Linked DNA regions of Homo sapiens. The protein of the gene in region 3 purifies or fractionates together with the protein of the main gene of each other region. This does not show direct contact. Each region holds a gene or a part of one and is shown on either strand. Other genes may lie near its edges. The genes, in order: PRUNE1, AKT3 and PIANP.

The links.
Region 1: the proteins of PIANP (region 3) and PRUNE1 purify together in Homo sapiens (affinity purification with mass spectrometry; 2 studies listed by BioGRID and IntAct, with this or other methods). This does not show direct contact.
Region 2: the proteins of PIANP (region 3) and AKT3 purify together in Homo sapiens (affinity purification with mass spectrometry; 2 studies listed by BioGRID and IntAct, with this or other methods). This does not show direct contact.

Annotation. Positions count from the first base shown.
Region 1 is NC_000001.11:151,011,448-151,015,104, reverse strand, and holds part of PRUNE1 (exopolyphosphatase PRUNE1), read right to left. Parts: intron 1-3,657. UniProt on the Homo sapiens protein: Phosphodiesterase (PDE) that has higher activity toward cAMP than cGMP, as substrate. Plays a role in cell proliferation, migration and differentiation, and acts as a negative regulator of NME1. Plays a role in the regulation of neurogenesis.
Region 2 is NC_000001.11:243,546,122-243,549,778, reverse strand, and holds part of AKT3 (RAC-gamma serine/threonine-protein kinase), read left to right. Parts: intron 1-3,657. UniProt on the Homo sapiens protein: AKT3 is one of 3 closely related serine/threonine-protein kinases (AKT1, AKT2 and AKT3) called the AKT kinase, and which regulate many processes including metabolism, proliferation, cell survival, growth and angiogenesis.
Region 3 is NC_000012.12:6,695,554-6,697,972, reverse strand, and holds part of PIANP (PILR alpha-associated neural protein isoform b precursor), read left to right. Parts: intron 1-180; coding exon 181-686; intron 687-1,448; coding exon 1,449-1,530; intron 1,531-2,321; coding exon 2,322-2,419. UniProt on the Homo sapiens protein: Acts as a ligand for PILRA in neural tissues, where it may be involved in immune regulation.

The DNA.
Region 1 (3,657 bases), on a different chromosome or scaffold from region 3:
CCGCCCGCCTCAGCTTCCCCAAGTGTTGGGATTACAGGCGTGAGCCACCACGCCCAGCCAAATTTTTGCATTTTTTGTAGAGATGGGGTTTTACCATGTTGCCCATGCTGATCTCGAACTCCTGGGCTCAAGTGATACAGCTGCCTCGGCCTCCCAAAATGCTTGGATTACAGGCATGAGCCACCATGCCCAGCCGGATAATTCTTTTTTTGTGGAGGCTGTCCTGTGCATTATAGGATATTTGGCAGGATCCCTAGCCTCTACCCACATGGATGCCAGTAGCACCCTAAGTCGTGACAAACAAAAATGTCTCCAGACTTGCTGAATGTTCCCTGGGGGGCAAAACTGCCCCCAGTTGAGAACTACTGGGTTACAAGAAGGTGAAAATCCATATAGTCTGACTTCTTCAATCAGGGAAGATTTGCTAGACTCAAGAGTTTAGCAAAGTGGGAAGGTTCAGAGGAGTAACACATAGCAAAGAATAGTTATCAACTAATGTAACTTTAAGAAAAAAAGGGAATCTAGGGAAACCTAGAATCATCTTCCCTATACAGGCTATCACTCTTCTCTTCCCCCACTGGAAAGCCACAGCTCAAAAAGGGCAATTTTAGAAGACTTCTGGTGGTATCAATTGCCCCATCCAGTTACGAGATAGGTTTTTGTTTTTAAACCACCCTCGTCGCCATCTCCTACTCCCATCCCTGGAGAGAAATACAGAAGACAGAGGTTATCTGTCCGGGTTCTGCCCAAAGGGCCCCTAAAGAAGTTTGCCCTGAGGTCCTCCCCATGCCTATTTCTCTAAGTCTACTTCAAGAGTTTGGAAGCAGGCCGGGCGCGGTGGCTTACGCCTGTAATCCCAGCACTTTGGGAGGCCGAGGCGGACAGATTACAAGGTCAGGAGATCGAGACTATCCTGGCTAACCTGGTGAAACCCCGTCTCTACTAAAAATACAAAAAATTAGCCAGGCGTGGTGGCGGGTGCCTGTAGTCCCAGCTACTCGGGAGGCTGAGGCAGGAGAATCTTTTGCACCCGGGAGGCGGAGGTTGCAGTGAGCCAAGATCGTGCCACTGCACTCCAGCCTGGGTGACCGAGCGAGACTCTGTCTCAAAAAAAAAAAAAAGTGTGGAAGCAAAGGCCCATTCATACTGAACAGCACTGGGGTAGGGGGATTCTTTACTTTTTTCCAAAGCAGTAAGAATTCTACCCAATACCCCAGTCCTATAGTAACTCCTCTGACTTGTAATTCCTCCTCCTGATACCAGAGACCTCTGTTTCCTGGAGACCAAGAACTGCCCAAATGGCTGTGGACCAAAGTGACAGCAAAGCACTTGAGATAAGAGGCTGCAGAAATAACTTGCTCACTGAAGCAGTTAGGGGGAGCGAGTGTTCTCTAGAGAGGAAACTATATAAACATGAGGCATATGGCCCTGACTGGAGGAAAAACATAAGAGCAGTGGAGAAAAGGCAGAGCAAGCAGGAGAGACCTACTGCAGGGTCCAAAGAGATGCTGGAGAACCTTTCCACGCTTATTTACATCAGTGTTGCTTCACTGCAAGCAGCAGCTGAATCAGGTTCAGTTAGATCCTTACCATGAAGAGAATGCTAAGCAGAAAAGCACAAAGTAGGGACCAAATACAGTGGTATGGTTCTGAAGTCAGGAGAAACCATCTACAGAGGAAGGTGAACAATGAACCCCTTGCGCTCAGCCAAACCTAGACAGTAACCAAAAGGAATGAATACAAAAGGAATACTTTGGGACTTGTAGCAAATCTTGGAACTGGAGTGACCAAGGGAGGCAGCAGCATTCCTCTCCCCTGTCAACACCCACTGTCACCCCGGCCTGACTGGACTATTCACCACCCGCAAACCATGATGTGCACATTCCCAGCTCTGCCCTTTGCACTATTTGTTCTCTGTTTGAATGCAGAACTACTATTTGAAAAGATCACAGACTTTGGGGTTGAATTCCAGCTCTGCTTCTTACTTGTTGCAGGACTTTGGACCCTCTAAGCCTCATTTTCCTCATATAAAAATGAGAATAGGCCGAGCGCGGTGGCTCACACCTATGATCCCAGCACTTTGGGAGGCCAAGGTGGGCGAATCACCTCAGGTCAGGGGTTCGAGACCAGCCTGGCAAGCATGGTGAAACTAAAAAGCACAAAAATTAGCCGGGTGTGGTGGCAGGTGCCTGTAATCTCAGCTACTCCAGAGGCTGAGGCAGGGAGAATTGCTTGAACCCGGGAGGCGGAGGTTGCAGTGAGCCGAGATCCCACCATTGCACTCCAGCCTGGGTGACAGTGTGAGACTCCATCTCAAAAAAACAAACAAAAAAAATGAGAATAATATCGTAACCAATTTCATGATGTTGTTAGGAGGATTAAATGAGATAGTACCATAAGTGCCTACGCTGTAAATAGTAAAGATGTGATCTCCCATCTTCTTTCTTTACTTCTCCCCGTTGTTCAAGTCTACCTAATGTCTTTCTCTGTGAAGCCTTCCTGAACACCCAGCCCAGAGAAATCCTCTTCCTCTAAACCTCCAGCTTCTAGCACTTGTGGCTCTGAGACAGACCTTAACTTCTATCTTAAGGAGCTCCCTGTCTTTTCATGGTCATGTATCCCTGATCCTTAACATGGCTTATGTGGTGGGTGACTATATATTTGATTGTTCAAACTGGGACGCTTATGAGAATGAAAAGGGGTGCTATTAATGATTACACAGGGGAAAACCAAGACTGCCCTGGGCAAACCGTGTGTGGGGCTGCCCAACTTATAAGACATCATTCTCTTCTTTATTTAAGAAAAACATGTGTAACCCCTAATTCCAAGCCCATCCTCCACCAGCTGAAAGCACAAGCCAAACAGCCTCAGTTTTCTGACCATCAGAGAAAGAGTTCAGGGAAAATACAGCTATACTTAGCAGCATGAGGAAATCTAAGCTGCCAATGGAAAAAATACAATCTGAGGGCCACAAGTAAATAAATACAAACTTTTTTTCTTTTTTCTTTTTTTTAAAGACCCACTAGTTGGCCAGGCACGGTGGCTCACGCCTGTAATCCCAGCACTTTGGGAGGCCGAGGTGGGCCGACCACGAGGTCAAGAGATTGAGACCATCCTGGCCAACATGGTGAAACCCCGTTTCTACTAAAAATACAAAAATTAGCTGGGCATGGTGGCACATGCCTGTAGTCCCAGCTACTCGGGAGGCTGAGGCAGGAAAATCACTTGAACCTGGCAGGCGGAGGTTGCAGTGAGCCGAGATCATGCAACTGTACTCCAGCCTGGTGACAGAGCGAGACTTTGTCTCAAAAAAAAAAAAAATTAATTAATTAAAATAAATAAATGAATAAACACCCACTAGTTGAAATGACTCTCTTATCCTGATATGTTCTTTGTGGCCTCAAGAGGAGGGGGCAGGGAGGGGATTCTAGGCCTGGCAAAGTAAACCACTTCCCTTCTAAAGCTGAATATGGTATGATAACTACTCTTCAGAATAGTTAATGGGGGAGAAAAATAAACGAGACAGAAAGCCAGAGAGAGACAAACCCTCTCAGCAGAGAAAACAGGAACAATACTGATGCCAGGACTGCAAATTTCTAAGGAGAGCCAGCTCCTGATTCCTGCCTCATGCCTGAGAACTGCACACACTACATTATC
Region 2 (3,657 bases), on a different chromosome or scaffold from region 3:
AGATTAGATGAGTGAGGATCCAGGGGCAGGCAGAGCAGTTAAAAGTGTTTATGGGGCCAGGCACAGTGGCTCACACCTGTAATCCCCGCACTTTGGGAGGCCGAGGCAAGAAGGTCACTTGAGGTCGGGAGTTCAAGACCAACCTGGGCACATAGCAAGATTCATCTCTACTAAAAAAAAATAAAATGCTGGGTATGGTGGCACATGCTGTAGTCCCAGCTACTTGGGAGGCTGAGGTGGGAGAATCGCTGGAGCCCAGGAGGTCGAGACTGCAGTGACCCAAGGTGACACCATTGCACTCCAGCCTGGGCAATAGAGTGAGTCCCTGTCTTTTTTTTAAAAAGAATATTTATGGAATTGTTCAGATAATAGATGGATTCCTTCCTGAAGCAGTAGTACACAAGTGATAGAGGTTATGATTAACTAGAAACTATGAGGAAGTAGGAGGAGTTAGGAATCCCTCTGAGGTTTCCAGCTAGGGTGATTAACAGACAGGGTATGCAAACCAAGGAGGCTTGATGGGGCTAGATGTTGATAATAACTTTGGGTACACTGAGTCTGAAGTTTCTATATAAAACCAAGATGGAAATGTCAAGTGAGCAGCTGGAAATAATAGAATGAATGCTTAAAAGAAACACAGTAACTGACTACATGGATTGGGAACCATAACTATATCTAGGAGGTAGCTAGAGCCAAGGCAGTAGTGGCAAGGGTAGTGGATAAGGAGAAGAGGGCCTAGGACAGAATCTTAGGGAACCTCAGTTTCAGGGGGAGAAAGAAAAGAAAGCTAACAAGGACCTTGAAAAGCCTTTGGAAACATAAGTAATGATAGCATTATAATACACCTCTTCATTTTTTCTACGCAGCTATTTTAAATACTACTGGAATTTTTCTGGTATTTCTTATTGAATTGCTGTTAGTTCTATCCAAGGGTCAACTATCATTTTGCTTTTATTTCTTAGTCTCCATCCTTTCTGTTCATTCTGTTAGCCCCTCCTTTATCTTCCTATGCGGAGTTGATAGGAAAAGCATGACCTCATGTATTCAGTAACATTAGGAAAATGTGAATTCTGTGATGTTCCTAATAGTAAAGGAATTTGTAGTAGCTGAGGATTTAGTCTGGCATTCTGATACTGGAGTTTAGTATTCTAGACATAAATATCTTACTTCAAAGCATATTTTGTTATTATTTTTGAAGTCTTAAATTGTATATTAGAGAGTCATTGACACTGAAATTTTTGACAGTTTCACACATTGAAGAAGTGTGTTAAAGAATTTCTCCTAGCTTCTAAAATGGAAGTCTGATTGTATTCTCAGACTTTGCATAGTATTCATAGCTGATATTTTAGTTTTATATGTATTTGATAAATATAGAATAAATGCTGGCTATGTTCAAAACCAAAGTATTGCTAGAAAACTTGAGGAGTTACAAAAATGGATAACTAAAGCTGGATTAAAACATTTTATTTACAAAATGATTATGATTCTCCACTCCAACTCCCATCTCAAGTACAATTCAAATGAAAACAGTATTGAAATAAACTACAACATAAGTGTAAGAAAATGCCATGGAGCTTTGATGTTTCTCATGCAGACTATGTTGACGCATGCTTGAAAATATTAAATGCTTTTCAGAAACGTGTTTTGGTGCTTTTGCTTCTCTGGTTCCCCAAGCACAAGCTTAGAATGCCTTTTGGATAATCCAGCACTGATCTTGCCTTCAAAGGAGTTTGCAGTCTCCTGGGAAAGAAACCTACACAACTGAAATAGAATGAAAAAGAGGGCAGGGTCTGAAATGCTGAGCTCTCACTGAACACAGAACTACCAGTCTGAAAATTCCAAATGCAAACATCGAACAGCACTATTATGATCAAACCTAAAAGTGCCATCTCTGGGGTATAGTTCATTTAGAGAATTCTATAAGGATCTGGGAGTTGGAGACCCAGCTGGTGGGAATTATTTATCATCACTAAAGATATTCAGGTATCAGTTGACTGTTTTCCATTTTAATTGTGTGTCAAAGGATACTAGGTCCTTCCCAGTCATGTGTTTCTTAGATCTAATAACCAGAATTCATTAGAATTATATAATTATAAATGATTTCTGACCTACGATGGCTTGACAATTTTTTGACTTTATGATGGTGCGAAACTGATGCGTATTTAGTATGCTCCTCAACTAATGATGGAATTGCATCCAGATAAAACCATCTTAAGTTGAAATGTGGGCTTATCTAGACATAACCCATCATTAAGTTTAGGAGCATCTGTATTTGTTTTCTATGACGTATTTGGTTTTCTTCCAACCCAGTGGTGTTTTGGAGTTAGCATATACCAGCTCTCAAGAACCAACTGTTAAATTTTCACCAATTTTATGAGCTGGTTGTATATTATAGTCATTACTAAAAATTATATAAATTTACTAATAATAGGAAAATCAAAGGTCATAAATACTAAAAAGTCATTACTCCTTAATTTGTTATGTTTCACTGTTATCTGTATTTTTGAGATTAGTTATGTCTGCTGTATCTGTTTGGACATAATATATAATGGTTTGCTACTATGCATCTCTTCCTGCCTACATGTTCAGTGACATCTTATTGGTAGCTCGAAACTGGCCACAGTGGAAGAATTTATACCGCCAGAATTGGCAAATACTATGAGTTGGGGCTGCACTTACTGTTTTGTTGACTGTTTAGACTTAAGAGAAAATATTAATAATGCAGATTCATTACATTGTAAATAGCACCAAAAAATGAATCTTCTTCCACCATCCCAAAGTTACTAAACATTTAGCAAAGAAATCACTCACATAACTGACAAGTGAAGTTCTGAAGTCTCCATTGTATCACTTTCAGCTTTGACTTTAACATAAACAAAAATGTCAACCAATATTCATGTTGGAACTAATCGTAAGTTTCATCCATTAGTGGCTTTGGCGTACAGCAGAAATTAACAAGTTTTCTGTGAGAATCAGGTGACTAATTTACAATACACAACATTGTATGTTTTATGATCTTTGTAAATTTTGTGTTTTGCATTCTTTATATCAGTAAAATTTAAATTTATATGTCTGGGGTGTGGTGGTGGCTAGGTCAGGCAAGGTTTGGTCCCAGCAGCTCCATGGCTGCTCTGCTCTGAGCATCTGGTATCTACTGTGCCTTTGAAAAAAAAAAGAAAAAAAATTATATTTGTATAAATGCATGATTGCTCACAGAGAGCTGGTTGTTAAGCACTTACCAGCACATATCATTTCTAATAATGAACAAGTCCAAATAAAGCCTACTATATAAAATTCAGATTTAAATAGGTTTATTTTATCTTCCTTTCCTTGTTCTTTTCCCCTCTTTTCCTCCTGTTCTTCCTATTTCTCACTTTTAGTTCTTTTATGCTTAGTAATATATACTATATTAAACTGAATAAGCCAGAAAACACTGAAATTTCTTTACCTATTATTAGTCCATTTTCATTCTGCTATGAAGAAATACCTGAGACCGCATAATTTATAAAGAAAAAGGGGTTTATTGGACTTACAGTTCCACATGGCTGGGGAGGCCTCACAATCATGGCAGAAGGTGAAGGAGGAGCAGAGGCACATCTTACAGGGCAGCAGGCAAGGGCATGTGCAGGGGAATCGCCCTTTATAAAACCATCAGAT
Region 3 (2,419 bases):
ATCCAGAGCCTTCCCATCCTGAGGGCCATCCTCCTTTGGAAGATGGGAAATGAGGCGAGTCTTCCCAAGGCCCACCTGCTTTCACAGGGAAACCTGGAGGTTTCTGGTGTGAACCTGTCCCTCCCTCACATAGGCCCACAGTAGGCCTGTGTCTCAGCCACGCTCTCTCCCTTCTTGCAGGCCTGCGCTGCTGCTGTCCCACCTCCTCCCTCTCTGGCCACTGCTGTTGCTGCCCCTCCCACCGCCTGCTCAGGGCTCTTCATCCTCCCCTCGAACCCCACCAGCCCCAGCCCGCCCCCCGTGTGCCAGGGGAGGCCCCTCGGCCCCACGTCATGTGTGCGTGTGGGAGCGAGCACCTCCACCAAGCCGATCTCCTCGGGTCCCAAGATCACGTCGGCAAGTCCTGCCTGGCACTGCACCCCCAGCCACCCCATCAGGCTTTGAGGAGGGGCCGCCCTCATCCCAATACCCCTGGGCTATCGTGTGGGGTCCCACCGTGTCTCGAGAGGATGGAGGGGACCCCAACTCTGCCAATCCCGGATTTCTGGACTATGGTTTTGCAGCCCCTCATGGGCTCGCAACCCCACACCCCAACTCAGACTCCATGCGAGGTGATGGAGATGGGCTTATCCTTGGAGAGGCACCTGCCACCCTGCGGCCATTCCTGTTCGGGGGCCGTGGGGAAGGTGAGTGGGAAAGGCTGGGAGGGATATGACGGATGGGGAGGCTGGGTGAAGACACCAAGGGGCAGAAATAGAGGCCTTGTCTGTTAGCTCCTTCAACAAATGTGTCAGGCACTATACTGGCACAGGATGCAGAGATAAAGACACCCTCTCGGAGTTCAGGTCCACTGGAGCAGACAGACATGAAAGGACTTGGAGAGGAGTCATCGTAATAAATGCTTTAATAGAGGCATGTGCAGCATGATTTACAAAAAAAGAGAAGTGAGAGTCTCCTCCTGCTTGGGGATCAGGACACCTTCAGAGAACTGACATTTGAGCTGGCCCTTGAAAAGAGAGTGGGAGTATTCTGGGCAGAGAATGCCATGAATGAAGGGCACTACCCGGGAGATGTCTTGGCTCAGGGAGTGCTGATGGAGGAACAGGGCCTGTGGTTTGGGAGTTGGGCCATGGCAGAGACTAGGACATCTCCACCCCTTAGTTTCCAGGCATAGTGATAGGTTCTCGCTGATCATGGGGCCTCATCCTCATCACATATACACATAAGATTTGGTGAAATACATTTGGGAAAGTGGAGGAAAAGAGCTGAAAACTCAGGGGAATGCTGGTGATAATAAAGAGTGAGGCTCCAGAGGGGCAGACAGAGCCGGCAGTGTGGATCCACACAGCAATGCCACTCCAGCCGACAGAGCCCACAGCCCAGCCCCCAGCCCCTCTTGGCTCCTACCACCTCGGGGCTCCCTAAAACTTTCTTCCCACCCCAATCAGGTGTGGACCCCCAGCTCTATGTCACAATTACCATCTCCATCATCATTGTTCTCGTGGCCACTGGCATCATCTTCAAGTTCTGGTAAGCTGGGAGGAGGAAGGTGCTGGTGGATGGGGACGGAATGTTTGGCAGTCGAGGCTCTAACCACGAGGGGCAGTGGCAGCAATTTTGCTGGGGGGTGGGTGGGAAATGCTGGATGAAGGCAAGACCTTGGGAAAAGATAATTAAGGATTTGGCTGGGGGAAGACGGTGAGAAATCAGGGCAGATTCTGTCTCCCAGGGAAATACAAGGATAAGGGAGGGCAGGGGAATTATTCCTGTGCATTCCTGGTGAGCCTCCCCTGCCCCTACTTCCTCCAAGACAGAGAAAGCTGACCCAGTCTGCAGAGCCCTTCTTAGGGTTGCCTGGGGGGAGCAAGAAAACCTGGAGCTTTCTTTGCACACATTTAATAATGGATCACTCAGTCCTTCACACTTTACTGAGAGAATCATTAGACTCAGGTGTCCAAGTCATCAGCTTGCTTTGAACTAGAACTAAACCTGCCAGTTGTCTGCTGAAGACAGAAATGACTCTTCTGGGCATGTAGGGGAGAGGACATTGTGGTGGTGGGGAGGGGATATTAATTTTGTCGATCTGGATCAGGTTTGGAGGGTAAGGAGGTTTAGATTACCAAGCTCCCCTAGAGGGCAGGGGAAGTGGCTTTATGGGCACAGAGTCCCAGGGGATTTAGTAGAGAGAACTGTTAAAGGCCAGTTTCTCTGCTATAAGATGTTGGGAGTGACTGGGCGAGGCTGGGGGTGACCACTGGTGCAGGCCCAGGATGGGGGCTACTTGAGTGTGCAAGAGAACCTCTTTTCCTCTGGTACCCCAGCTGGGACCGCAGCCAGAAGCGACGCAGACCCTCAGGGCAGCAAGGTGCCCTGAGGCAGGAGGAGAGCCAGCAGCCACTGACAGACCTGTCCCCGGCTG